3 separate regions of the Homo sapiens genome follow, and regions 1 and 2 are each linked to region 3. Evidence: fine-mapped expression QTL. A gene starts in region 3. Each other region holds a variant in brackets. All regions are shown on one strand. Distances are from middle to middle.

Region 1 (4,239 bases), 59 kb after region 3:
CATTAGCCAGGATGGTCTCGATCTCCTGACCTTGTGATCTGCCTGCCTCGGCCTCCCAAAGTGCTGGGATTACAGGCGTGAGCCACAGCACCCGGCCGAAAAAGAATTTAATAATCAAAATGCCAGCCAAGCAGAAGGACTGGAAATCATTCTCAAATCTGCCTCCCCGAGAATTCAGAGGCTAGAGTTATTTTATTTTATTTATTTTAATTTTATTTTTGAGACAGATTCTCACTCTGTCACCAGGCTGGAGTGCATGGTGCGATCTCAGCTCACTGCAACCGCTGCTTCCTGGGTTCAAGCGATTCTCCTGCCTCAGCCTCCCGCGTAGCTGAGACTACAGGTGCGCACCACCACACACAGCTAATTTTTGTACTTTTAGTAGAGACAGGGTTTCACCATGTTGGCCAGGATGGTCTTGATCTCTTGACCTCGCGATCCGCCCACCTTGGCCTCCCAAAGTGCTGGGATTACAGGTGTCAGCCACTGCGCCCTGCTGAGGCTAGAGTTTTTTTGTTTTGTTTTGTTTTGTTTTTGAGACGGAGTCTTGCTCTGTCACCCAGGCTGGAGTGCAGTGGTGCGATCTCAGCTCACTGCTCCCGGGTTCACACCATTGTCCTGCCTCAGCCTCCCAAGTAGCTGGGACTACAGGCGCCCGCCACCACTCCCAGCTAATTTTTTTGTATTTTTAGTAGAGATGGGGTTTCACCGTGTTAGCCAGGATAGTCTCGATCTCCTGACCTCGTGATCCACCCACCTCAGCCTCCCAAAGTGCTGGGATTACAGGCGTGAGCCACCGTGCTTGGCCCTCTGAGGCTACAGTTTTTAAAGGAAAGCTGGGTGGGCAGGTGGCTAGGGAATGGGTAGTGCTGACTGAGTAGGGGATGAAATTATAAAGGGTTGAAGTTGTCTTCTTGCACTAAGTCAGTTCCTGGGTCGGGGGTCACAAGACCAGTTGGGTCAGTTTCTGGGTTATGGGTTGCCCATCCTAGTGGCGCCAGCTGGTCCATCAAAATACAAGGTCTGAAAGATACCTCAAACACCAGCCGTAGGTTCTACGATAGTGACGTTATCTATAGGAACAATTGAGGGGGTTACAAATCTTGTGACCTCCAGCTACATGACTCCTGGACCATAATTCTGACCTTGTGGTTAATCTGTTAGTTTTATGAAGGCAGTTTAGTCCCTGTGTGATGAAGAGGTTCGTTATCTTTGTTTAAAGTTAAACTATAAACTAAATTCCTCCCATAGTTTTCTTGCCCTATACACAGGAATGAGCAAAGATGGTCAGCTGGTGAGGTTAGAAGCAAGATGGAGTCAGCAATGCTGGATTTCTGTCACGATCATAATCTTTGCAAAGATGGTTTCAAGCTTAGGGACACAGTGGAGTCCAGCTGTGGACAAAGAGTTGCAGGGACCTGAGGTGTCCATGCAGGGACACCCCCAGTGGGCAATTGTTATTTGGGCCTGGAGGTTAAGAAGGACCAGGCTGGAGGTTAGAATGTGGGCACCAATGCAGAGATAATGGAAGCTGTGGGTGTGGATAAGGGCCAGGAAGAATGTGTGTAGAGTGAGAGGAGAGGCTGTCTAAGCTGCAGGCCTGAGGGGCACCCACTCTTAAGGGTGGACAAGGGAAGAGGAGGACTCTGTAAGGGGCAGCCATTGTAAATGGCCCTGGTTTGGATAGCTGTCGGCACCACCCTCACCCCCAGCTTATTAAGTATTTTACATTACATTATCCTAGGAAGTAAGTGGGACACATATTGTACCTCTTTTATAGCTGGATAAACAGATCAACAGTACATCAAACCTACTCTCATTCCAACAGCTTGGCTGCCCTTCAGCTGGTATGTTTACAGGGACTCCAACCAGCCCTCACTCACCTGACAGCCAAGCTGCCCATTTCTGAGATTCTAGGAGCCGCTTACAGCTGTTTTTTTTTTTCCTACTTTTTCATCATTATTATCAGTCCTGTGGCTAACAATAATACCTAACACATAGCAGTTCCACATACGGATGTTAACTTTTTTTTTTTTTTTGAGACAGAGTCTC[G/A]CTCTGTTGCCCAGGCTGGAGTGCAGTGGCACGAGCTTGGCTCACTGCAACCTCCGACTCCTGGGTTCAAGCAATTCTCCTGTCTCAGCCTCCCGAGTAGCTGGGATTACGATGTGCGTCACCACGCCTGGCTAATTTTTTGTATTTTTAGTAGAGATGGAGTTTCACCATGCTGGTCAAGCTGGTCTCGAACTCCTAACCTCAGGTGATCCACATGCGTCAGCCTCCCCAAAGTGCTGGGATTACAGGTGTGAGCCACCGTGCCTGGCCTTTTTTTTTTTTTTTTTTTTGAGATGTAGTTCTGCTCTTGTCACCCAGGCTGGAGTGCAATGGTGTGATCGCGGCTCACTGCAACTTCCACCTCTGGGGTTCAAGTGATTCTCCTGCCTCAGCCTCCCAGGTAGTTGAGATTACAGGCATGCACCACCATGCCCAGCTAATTTTTGTATTTTTAGTAGAGATGGGGTTTCACCATGTTGGTCAAGCTGGTCTCGAACTCCTGACCTCAAGTGATCCACCCGCCTTGGCCTCCCAAAGTGCTAGGATTACAGGCGTGAGCCACCACACCCAGACCACAGATATTATTCTTAATGTTTCACATATTTTAACTCATTTAATCCTCACAAAAACCTATTAAATACATTTATTATCTTCATTTTATAGATGAAGAAATTGAGGCCCAATGTTCCAAGCTGTTGTCAAAAAACCAAATTATAACAAACTAGTTTAAAGATTTCAATTGGCTTTATTTGCAATTCTAGAATCAGGCAACACTTCATTCCATAAAACAGTAAGTCCCAAAGAGCTGAGCAGAAGAGCTTGGCTTTATACACACAGAGAGGGGCTGGAGAAAGCAGAAGGAAGGAACAGAGCATATTAGTTACTTTTAGACAGAACAATAGGAATGTCACTGGTTAGTAACATTGGTTTACTTCAGGATACCTTTTTGGTTTAAGGATTAAGGCAGCCGGGCGCGGTGGCTCACGCCTGTAATCCCAGCACTTTGGGAGGCCGAGGCGGGTGGATCACGAGGTCAGGAGATCGAGACCATCCTGGTTAACACGATGAAACCCCGTCTCTACTAAAAATATAAAAAAATTAGCCGGGTGTGATGGTGGGCGCCTGTAGTCCCAGCTACTCAGGAGGCTGAGGCAGAAGAATGGCGTGAACCCGGGAGGTGGAGCTTGCAGTGAGCAGAGATCGCGCCACGGCACTCCAGCCTGGGTGACAGAGCGAGACTCTGTCTCAAAAAAAAAAAAAGGATTAAGGCAGAGGAACTTCCCTTATCATACTGATTGAAGATTGGAACTGGTCTTCTTGGGAAATTGGTTGTTGTCTGTCTCTCTTGATTTCTTGCAAGGTCAGAAAACTCTTCAGGTTTGGTGATCTGGAACTTTAACATGGCTGACTCCATTTTTATTTTTTATTTTTATTTTTTGAGATGGAGTTTCGCTCTTGTTGCCCAGGCTGGAGTGCAATGGCGCAATCTCGGCTCACTGCAACCTCCGCCTCCCAGTTTCAAGCAATTCTCCTGCCTCGGCCTCCTGAGTAGCTGAGATTACAGGCATGCACCACCACGCCCGGCTAATTTTGTATTTTGAGTAGAGACGGGGTTTCGCCATGTTGGGGCTGGTCTCGAACTCCTGACCTCAGGTGATCCGCCTGCCTCAGCCTCCCAAAGTGCTGGGATTACAGGCGTCAGCCACCGTGCCCGGCCCTCCATTTTGATTTTTAGCCTGGTCTGTCGGGGCCTAATGCAGGAGCTTATTCCAAAACAATGGCCTCCTATAATGGTTTATTTAACAGTGTTAATTAGAGGAAATGGGGTTTAAACCCAGGGGAGTCCGACTTTAGGGTTCAGGGCTGTCACTGAGGCTCCATTTTTCTGAGGTAAAATTCCTCACTTTACCCATCGATGACGGTCTTGTAGCCTTAGTTTCTTGGCCACACCTTCAACCTTTCAGTGCCTATGGTTGTTCCTAGCCCCAAAAGGTCACATGGTTCTTCTAATACCTTCCATTAAGAAGCCAATAGCTTTCTGAAAATGAGGCCAGAGGCCATTTGGAGAATCCTAAACCTACTACCTGGGAACGGGCAGGGTCTTGTGGTTCTGAATGTCCTCAGAATGAATTTCCTGCCATCCCTGGGATTCCAGCTCCCCTCTCTCCACAGCTCCCCACAAGACAG
Region 2 (4,239 bases), 51 kb after region 3:
CCGCATGCCTTTGCCATGTAACATAATGCACATTTACTTTTATTTTATTTTATTTATTTATTTATTTATTTATTTATTTATTTATTTATTTATTTATTTATTTTGAGATGGGGTCTTGCTCTGTCACCCAGGCTGGAGTCCAATGGTGTGATCTCAGCTCACTGCAACCTCCGCCTCCTGGGTTCAAGCCATTCTCCTTGCCTTAGCCTCCCAGGTAGCTGGGACTACAGGCATGCACCACTACAGCTGGCTAATTTTTTTGTATTTTTAGTAGAGATGGGGTTTTACCATGCTGGCCAGGCTGATCTCGAACTCCTGACCTCAAGTGATCCACCTGCCTCGGCCTCCCAAAGTGCTGGGATTACAGACGTGAGCCACTGTGCCCGGCCTACATTTATTTTAAACTGGTATCATTGATCTTGAGTGAAAACTATCCCCCATTTGTATATGGTTTTTCAAAAGTGAAGGCTTATTTTTCCCTTTTTTGATTGTTTCTTTGTCACAAAATGCCTGTACTATGAAGAAGTCTAATCAGTGTGCTCTTCATGGAAAATTAACAGACAAACCATATGTATTCACTACTTCAGTATTCTCAGATAAAATTTATTTTATTGGCTGGGTGTGATGGCTCATGCCTGTAATCCCAGAACTTTGGGAAGCCAAGGCAAGAGGAAACCTGAGCCCAGGAGTTTGAGACCAGCCTGGGCAATATAGCAAGACCCCATTTCTATGAAAAATTTAAAAATTAGCTGGGCATGATGGCGTGGGCCTATAGTCCCAGCTACTTGGGAGGCTGAGGCAGGAAGATTGCTTGAGTCCAGAAGGTCGAGGCTGCAGTGAGCTGTGTTTGTGGCCACTACACTCCAGGGCAGGTGAGAGAGCGAGACTGTCTGAAAAAAATATTATTTATTGATTAGAGACAGGGTCAGGCTCTGTCACCTAGGCTGGGGTGCAGAATGGCATGATCATAGCTCACTGTAACCTCAAACTCCTGAGCTCTAGTGATCCTCCCACCTCAGCTTCTGGAGTAGCTGGGACTACTGGTGTGTGTCATCGTGCTGTAGAGAGTCTCGCTATGTTGCCCAGGCTGGCCTCAGGTGATCTTCCCGCCTTGGCGTCCCAAAGTGCTGGGATTACAGGTGTGAGCCACCACGCCTGGCCTAAATTTATAATCTGCCTGGTACTGATACTTGTACAAAGAGGCTGTTCTGCTGGCCTAAGGAAGAGAACAGAAAATTATCCCTAGATTAAGTGAAAGATATTATGAGGCTTTCACACTACTACAAGAAACAAGTAGCTCTGGTAATTACCACTCCTTGGCCTGATGTTGTTTTCCTAGTACATTGTAAATATAGTCTGTTTAGGGCATGATGGCTCATGCCTGTAATCCCAGCACTTTGGGAGGCGAGGATGGGCACAACGCTTGAGCCCAGGAGTTAGAGCCCAACCTGGGCAGCATGGTGAAACCCTGTCTCTACAAAAAAATATAAAAATTAGCCGAATGTGTTGGCGTGCACCTGTAGTTCCAGCTACTTGGGAGGCTGAGATGGGAGGATCATTTGGGCTCAGGAGATTGAGACTGCAGTGAGCCGAGATCACGCCACTGCACTCCAGCCTGGATGGCAGAGCAAGACCCTGTGTCCGAAAAAAACAAAAATAAAACAAAACAAAAAAAAAGATGGTGTTGAATTTAAGCTGCTAGAAAAAGAAAAGTGTCATTTGTCACCTACACTCGAGATAGCCAGAACGGGGAGCAAGCTACAGGGCAGCCTCCAGTACAAGACCAATGCAAGGAGCCC[G/A]CTCCCCAGGAGCCTGGCCCCAGAGCAGAGTTCGCCATGCCTGCGGAACCTCCCCTCCATGCTATAAGAGGGAAGGGAAAAATACAGACTCTTGAAACTGCGGTGAATTCATTAGATTCCAGCACAATCAATCTCAGTCAGCTTCATTCTTCCTGCTTTCTGTAACATAGAGTGTTACTTGTGCTCCTCATTTCAGCAGTGTCCTTGGTTACTGGACCTTTTGCCACAGCCCTGCAAAACCTGGCCAAACTTGCACCAAGTTGATTATCCTGTGTTTCATATTTTGTTGAGCATCTGTGCATTTTAAAGTGTTGGCTTGGTTAACTTTCTCGATGTTAACTTTTTGCCTTCCTGAGGAATGTATGAGGACCAGTTACCAGAATGGTTTTGTTTTGCAGGTCACGAGAAGAGAATGCCTTCTAGATGCAAAATCACCTCCAAACCAGACCACTTTTCTTGACTTGCCTGTTTTGGCCATTAGCTGCCTTAAACGTTAACAGCACATTTGAATGCCTTATTCTACAATGCAGCGTGTTTTCCTTTGCCTTTTTTGCACTTTGGTGAATTACGTGCCTCCATAACCTGAACTGTGCCGACTCCACAAAACGATTATGTACTCTTCTGAGATAGAAGATGCTGTTCTTCTGAGAGATACGTTACTCTCTCCTTGGAATCTGTGGATTTGAAGATGGCTCCTGCCTTCTCACGTGGGAATCAGTGAAGTGTTTAGAAACTGCTGCAAGACAAACAAGACTCCAGTGGGGTGGTCAGTAGGAGAGCACGTTCAGAGGGAAGAGCCATCTCAACAGAATCGCACCAAACTATACTTTCAGGATGAATTTCTTCTTTCTGCCATCTTTTGGAATAAATATTTTCCTCCTTTCTATGGAAATCTGGGCTCGGTGTTTGTAAAGTTCATTTTTATAAGCTTTTCTATCGCTACATAATGCCTTTTTAAAAAATGATTTTGTAGTCTAAACTTAGGTTGAGTATATAAACCCTGCCATGTAGCTTGAGATGCCTGAAAAGACTGGTAAGTGCGTTTCTTAATCGTTCAGTAACTATTTGAGTGCCTACTGCAGCCAAGGCACTGGAGGGATCAAAGATGTGTAAATTTGGAGTCCCTGCAAGTTCACAAGCTATTTGGAGAGATAAGGTTAGTATACATAGAACTGTAATATAAGGTTGTGTTGGAGCATTGTCCTTAAAGATGGTACCATGGTGAGCAGTTCAAGGTTACCTGCCAGCTGCAGAACAAGGCAGCAAATGCTCCTGAGATGGAACCATCACAGCCTCAGACATAGGACTAAAGAAGTCAAGAGTGATTAAAAAGCCAGGGGCAGGAGACAGTAATTTTGTATTTCAGTAGCAGGCATCTCGATACACTAATTTGAGAGCTTTATTACTTTTAAGAAATTAAAAATTAAAATGAACCTAAATTTTCACCAGCTCATGGCTTTTTGACAGCCAGCCAAGAATGGATTTCCTGTTTTGCAGTTTCTACTTTCTATTCCTCCCAAACTGTCTGAACTCATTACTTTGCTATTCTTATGACCAAAGTGAGTTTCAAGTTGAAGTGACTCTCCTGCTCTCGTTTCTTTTCATTCTTTACTTTTGTTTTGCGCAGTCTGTTAGGCAACTCCATGCTTTACGTTTCCAGCAGGAGGGCCACATTAGCTAATTTCATGGAATACATGAAACATTGATGATTTGAAGTTGAAGGGGGCTATGGTGATATAGGCTAACCCCATCATTTTATGGATAAGGAAGCTGAGCCCAGACAGGGAGAATTTCTCGCCCAGCTTAATGCAGTTGGTCAGAGCTAGACAGGGGAGTAAGATCCATGTTTTCTTTCTTTTTTTCTTGAGACAGAGTCTCACTCTGTCGCCCAGGCTGGAGTGCAGTGGTGCGATCTCAGCTCACTGCAACCTCTGCCTCCCGGGTTCAAGCAATTCTCCTGCCTCAGCCTCCTGAGTAGCTGAGATTACAGGCACCTGCCACCGCGCCCGACTAATTTTTGTATTTTTAGTAGAGACAGGGTTTCACCATGTTGGTCAGGCTGGTCTCCTGACCTCGTGATCCGCCCACCTTGGTCTCCGAAAGTGCTGGGATTACAGGTGTGAGCCACCGCGCCCTGCCATCATACTATTGTTGAAATGTGGGAATGACGAAATCAGCTCAGGTTTTATGAGAGGAAACTCGGTAAATTCCCTTTGCTCAGGAAGTCACTTCACCCTTGAGCCCTAGTTGTTTCATTTATTAAATTCTTGAGAAGGTTCAGTGCCATTAATACCTAAACCCAGGCACATGTTCTCTCGTCACCTCACCCTTAATAGCAGAACTGTTTGTTAACAACATGATTAGGCATCGGAGATGGATGTTGGTGAATCATATTTTCCTGACCGTTGCCACACTCCATCCAGTGTTTGTCAGGGCCCAG
Region 3 (4,228 bases):
CAGGATGAAATGGGTCTTGGAGAAGGCGGTGTTTGGGCTAGAACTTAAGGACCATAGGATTTCTGCTGGGGCTAAGTTTTGGGGAAGCATTATGAGCACAAAGGAGACAAACTAGTTTTCTACATTGCTGATCAGGTTAAAGGCTTAGAATCATGTCCGAAAAGTTGGTACAGATGTTGAAGATTATTGGTCCAGTTTCCCGTTTAATACAGGAATCCATTCTACTTGATGAAAGAAATCAGGAGTTAATGCAATGTGGCTACTGCAAGGAAACCATGGTCCCTGGTAAAGCACATTGCATTTAAAGACCTGCTTTCTATCTTGCTTTCACCTGTAAGCTTTATCATCAAGCTCCTCAACCTCTCTGAGAACTGGCTTCCTTGTCTATTCCAAGCTTGGCGCATACTATAACTAACATATGTGAAAATTCTCAGCAAGCGTTCTAAGCCCTGTTTATCAGCTCAGCACGGTGGCTTATGCCAGTAATCCCGGCACTTTGGGAGGCTGAGGTGGAGGATCCCTTCAGGCCAGGAGTTTAAGACCCACCGGGGCAACATAGCGAGGCTCTGTCTCTACAAAACATTTTAAAAATTAGCTGGTGTGGTGGTGCACACCTGTAGTCCCAGCTCCTCAGGAGGCTGAGGCAGAAGGATGGCTTGAGCCCGGGAGTTCCAGGCAGCAGTGAGCTATGGAGCACCACTGCACTCCAGCCTGGGTGACAGAGCAAGGCCCTGTCTCAAAAAACAAACAAACAAACAAAACTGTTTTACCTTTCTTTTTCTTTCTTTCTTTTTTTTTTTTTTTTTGAGGCAGAGTTTCACTCTGTCGCCAAGGCTGGAGTGCAGTGGTGCGATCTCAGCTCATTATAACCTCTGCCTCCCAGGGATTCAAGCGGTTCTTGTTCCTCAGCCTCCTGAGTGGCTGGGACTACAGGTGCATACCTGGCCAATTTTTGTATTTTTAGTAGAGATGGGATTTCACCATGTTGCCCAGGCTAGTCTTGAACTACTGACCTCAGGTGATCTGCCCGCCTCGGCCTCCCAAAGTGCTGGGATTACAGGTGTGAGCCACCATGCCTGGCCTGTTTTTCTTCTTACCATTCTGGCTAATTTCTACTTGTCTTTCAAGGCTCAGCAAGGACGAGTTGGGTAGAAAGCCTTGCAGGGTCGTCCACTTACTTTCACACTGCATTGAGTCGCCTGTTTGCAAGGTCATCTGCTCCCCAGAATGTGAACTCCCTCAGGGGTGCCTGATTGACTTCTGTAACTCCAGAGCCTGGCACAGCACACAAGATAAATAGTGGTGCGCTAGTTAAGAGCTCTGGCCTTGAAAATCAGATAATCAGGGGTTGAATCCTGGCCCTGCCACTTACTATGTGACTTTGGGCAAGATCCTTATCCTCTTCCCTGGGCCTCAGTTTCTTCAACTGCAAAGTGGGGATAATAATTACAATTACCTCATAGGCTGAAGTGAGGAGTTCAACACGGGCTCATGCACTTTTTTTTTTTTCTTTTGAGACAGAGTGTTGTTCTGTTGCCCAGGCTGGAGTGCAGTGGCGCAATCTCGGCTCACTGCAACCTCCACCTCCCGAGTTCAATTGATTCTCCTGCCTCAGCCTCCTGAGTAGCTGGGACCACAGGCGCGCACCACCACACCCAGCTAATTTTTGTATTTTTAGTAGAGACAGGGTTACACCATGTTGGCCAGGCTGGTCTCGAACTCCTGACCTCAAGTGATCCGCCTGCCTCAGCCTGCCAAAGTGCTGGGATTACAGGCGTGAGCCACCGCACCCGGCCTGGGGCTCATGAACTTAAAGATCATGGCCCAGTGCCAGGCACACGGGAATTCAGAATAGTAAGGGACAACTATTGTTAAGTTCTCTATGTCTGTTGCATAAGTAGATGAGGCTGTAGATAACTACACTCTTTGTCTAAAAGGGCCAAGTTCTCATCAGAACACTTTGCTGAGCCCCGGGTGACCGAATCCCTAGCTCTGGGGTGAGCGACATGCCTCCAAGGAGCTGCAGCCAGGAGACAGCCAGGCGAAGGCGGGGCTCTGCCTCTGGGCTCCCCGAGGGGCGGAGGCCGGCGCGCGGGTCACGTGGGGGCGCGGGAGGCGGGGCTTGCACACGCTGGTCACGCGGTCAGCTATTGACACTTCCTGGTGGGATCCGAGTGAGGCGACGGGGTAGGGGTTGGCGCTCAGGCGGCGACCATGGCGTATCACGGCCTCACTGTGCCTCTCATTGTGATGAGCGTGTTCTGGGGCTTCGTCGGCTTCTTGGTGCCTTGGTTCATCCCTAAGGGTCCTAACCGGGGGTAAGTGCGTGAGGCCCGCCTTGGGAGGAACGGGCGGTGAGGAGCTAGCAGGCCGGGGCGGGGAAAGGCACGACCCCCACACGGGTCAGAGAACGTTGCATGGGCGCCCCCCGCGCTGCAGAGTCAGGCCCCCGACCCGGCGGAACTCCTTGTGTTCCTTTTCGCAGCAGCTTCAGTGTCCTCCGGCCTGAGCGAGTGGAGGGTGACCTTTGGTGGACCCCCCTTGGAAACGAGTTTCAGGGGAATTTTTTCTCATCATAGTCCTGTGTGGGGAGGTGCAGTCGGAAATGAGCAGGCCGAATCTGGGAGAAACTGGGGTTTGTCCCTAGTCGACTGTCCCCCTTTAGCCCTGCCTTCCACCCACATGAGGCCTCGTTTGCCTGAACTTAAGGATCAAATAAATAAAACAGAAATTGGCTTCTCTGCCTCCCATGCTGTCGCGGTTGCGTACAGAACAAGCTCCTTCGACAACATTGAGCCCAGGCCTTGCATCTAGTGGGCGCCAGGAGGCGGTTGGGGCCTGATCTAAAGCGAGATTAATTACCAAAGAGCAGGAGGTATTGTTGAGAAACCCCTGCGTCATGCCTTTTGGAGGGCGCTCCGGCTCTTGTATGTGAGTGTAAGAAGTGCTTAGAATGATTGGCTAAGAAAGATTTTGTTTTTCCAGACTTCTTTGTTGGTTAGAGCTTTGTCTCTTTTGGAATTAAACTTTTTAACTGTAGTATAAAATAGAGGCTTAATCTTCAAAGGAGCCTTGGAACACCCTCTTCCTGGTTCCTCTTTTGCTTCTCAGTCATTTTTTTCTCAGTTCAAGATGATGAGAGGTGAAACTTCGACTGAAGTCAGTTTGTCAGAAACACCATCTCTTGCTTTATTCTTGAACCTAATTGGTGGCTTCATAGTGCCTGGTTTTCATAGTACCTTGTATGCACAGGAGGCACCCAATAAATACCTGTTGAGTGAATAGTTCTATTGTCTTTATTAAAAGAAAAAGATTTTTGGCCAGGTGCCGTGGCTCACGCCTGTAATCCCAGCACTTTGGGAGGCCAAGGCGGGCGGATCACGAGGTCAGGAGATCGAGACCATCCTGGCTAACACGGTGAAACCCGTCTCTACTAAAAACACAAAAAATTAGCCGGGCGTGGTGGCGGGCGCCTGTAATCCCAGCTACTCGGGAGGCTGAGGCAGGAGAATGGCGTGAACCCAGGAGGCAGAGCTTGCAGTGAGCCGAGATCGCGCCACTGCACTCCAGCCTGGGCGACAGAGCGAGACTCCGTCTCAAAAAAAAAAAAAAAAAAGAAAGAAAAAGATTTTTACTACTTCCCTAATATTTTGTGACCTGAACCCCTTTTGCTCCCTGGGATACATTTGCTTTATTAGTCTAAAATTATTTTTTTTTAAAAGATACATGGTAGATGAATTTTTATCATTTTTAAGTATCAAGTTCCTCCTCCCTGGTAACACCAGTTATATGGGGTCATCTCTCCTACCTATAGAGGTTGATGGACAGAGTCAGAATTCTGGCATTATTAAAGCAATTGTATTTACCAAAGTTAATTAGACTTGTTTTTCCTACTGGAGTTAGCGAACAACAAAGTGCTTCTTTGTTGTGTTTATATCTTCAACTGTTTCATTACCCTACTGTCTGCCTTTATGGCCTTTGTACTCAAAGAAGCATTTATTAATGTACTAATAGCACTGACAATTCCTTTCTTAAAGACCATTCTCTCCCCTTCCTTGGGATGTCATTGCCATTATCCAGGGTAATGAAACCCATCCTGTTTCCACTTAGCCCTAGAGAGTGTCATGATTCAGGTATTTGACCAGCTAGTGATATATAGACATGTGTCACTTAACAAAAGGACTATGTTTGAGAAATGTGTTAGTTGGGCTTTTGTGTGAACAAAGAG

Which allele goes with the higher level. Positions count from the first base shown, and alleles are read on the strand shown. Sizes are in standard deviations (SD) of each study's normalised expression. Not every link is listed here.
With allele G in place of A in region 2, the expression in testis of the gene that starts at base 2,125 in region 3 is higher (small effect, 0.11 SD a copy in GTEx).

The links. PIP is the estimated chance that this variant, and not a neighbour inherited with it, causes the effect.
Region 1: its variant is the best candidate, but not a certain one, in a credible set for the expression of ATP6V0E1 in whole blood (TOPMed, PIP 0.68).
Region 2: its variant is the best candidate, but not a certain one, in a credible set for the expression of ATP6V0E1 in testis (GTEx, PIP 0.63).

Annotation. Positions count from the first base shown.
Region 1 is chr5:173,041,078-173,045,316 of GRCh38, forward strand. No RefSeq gene overlaps it. Among named protein-coding and RNA genes, the nearest start is that of CREBRF, 13 kb to the right of the region's middle. The variant G/A (reference allele first, on the strand shown) is at 2,053.
Region 2 is chr5:173,032,202-173,036,440 of GRCh38, forward strand. It overlaps ATP6V0E1 (ATPase H+ transporting V0 subunit e1), which reads left to right. Exons shown (of 4, transcript NM_003945.4): 4 at 2,198-3,244. Among named protein-coding and RNA genes, the nearest start is that of SNORA74B, 14 kb to the left of the region's middle. The variant G/A (reference allele first, on the strand shown) is at 1,800.
Region 3 is chr5:172,981,647-172,985,874 of GRCh38, forward strand. ATP6V0E1 (ATPase H+ transporting V0 subunit e1) reads left to right here and starts at 2,125. Exons shown (of 4, transcript NM_003945.4): 1 at 2,125-2,318. The coding sequence starts at 2,215. RefSeq lists an enhancer at 1,940-2,234 and a silencer at 2,000-2,179.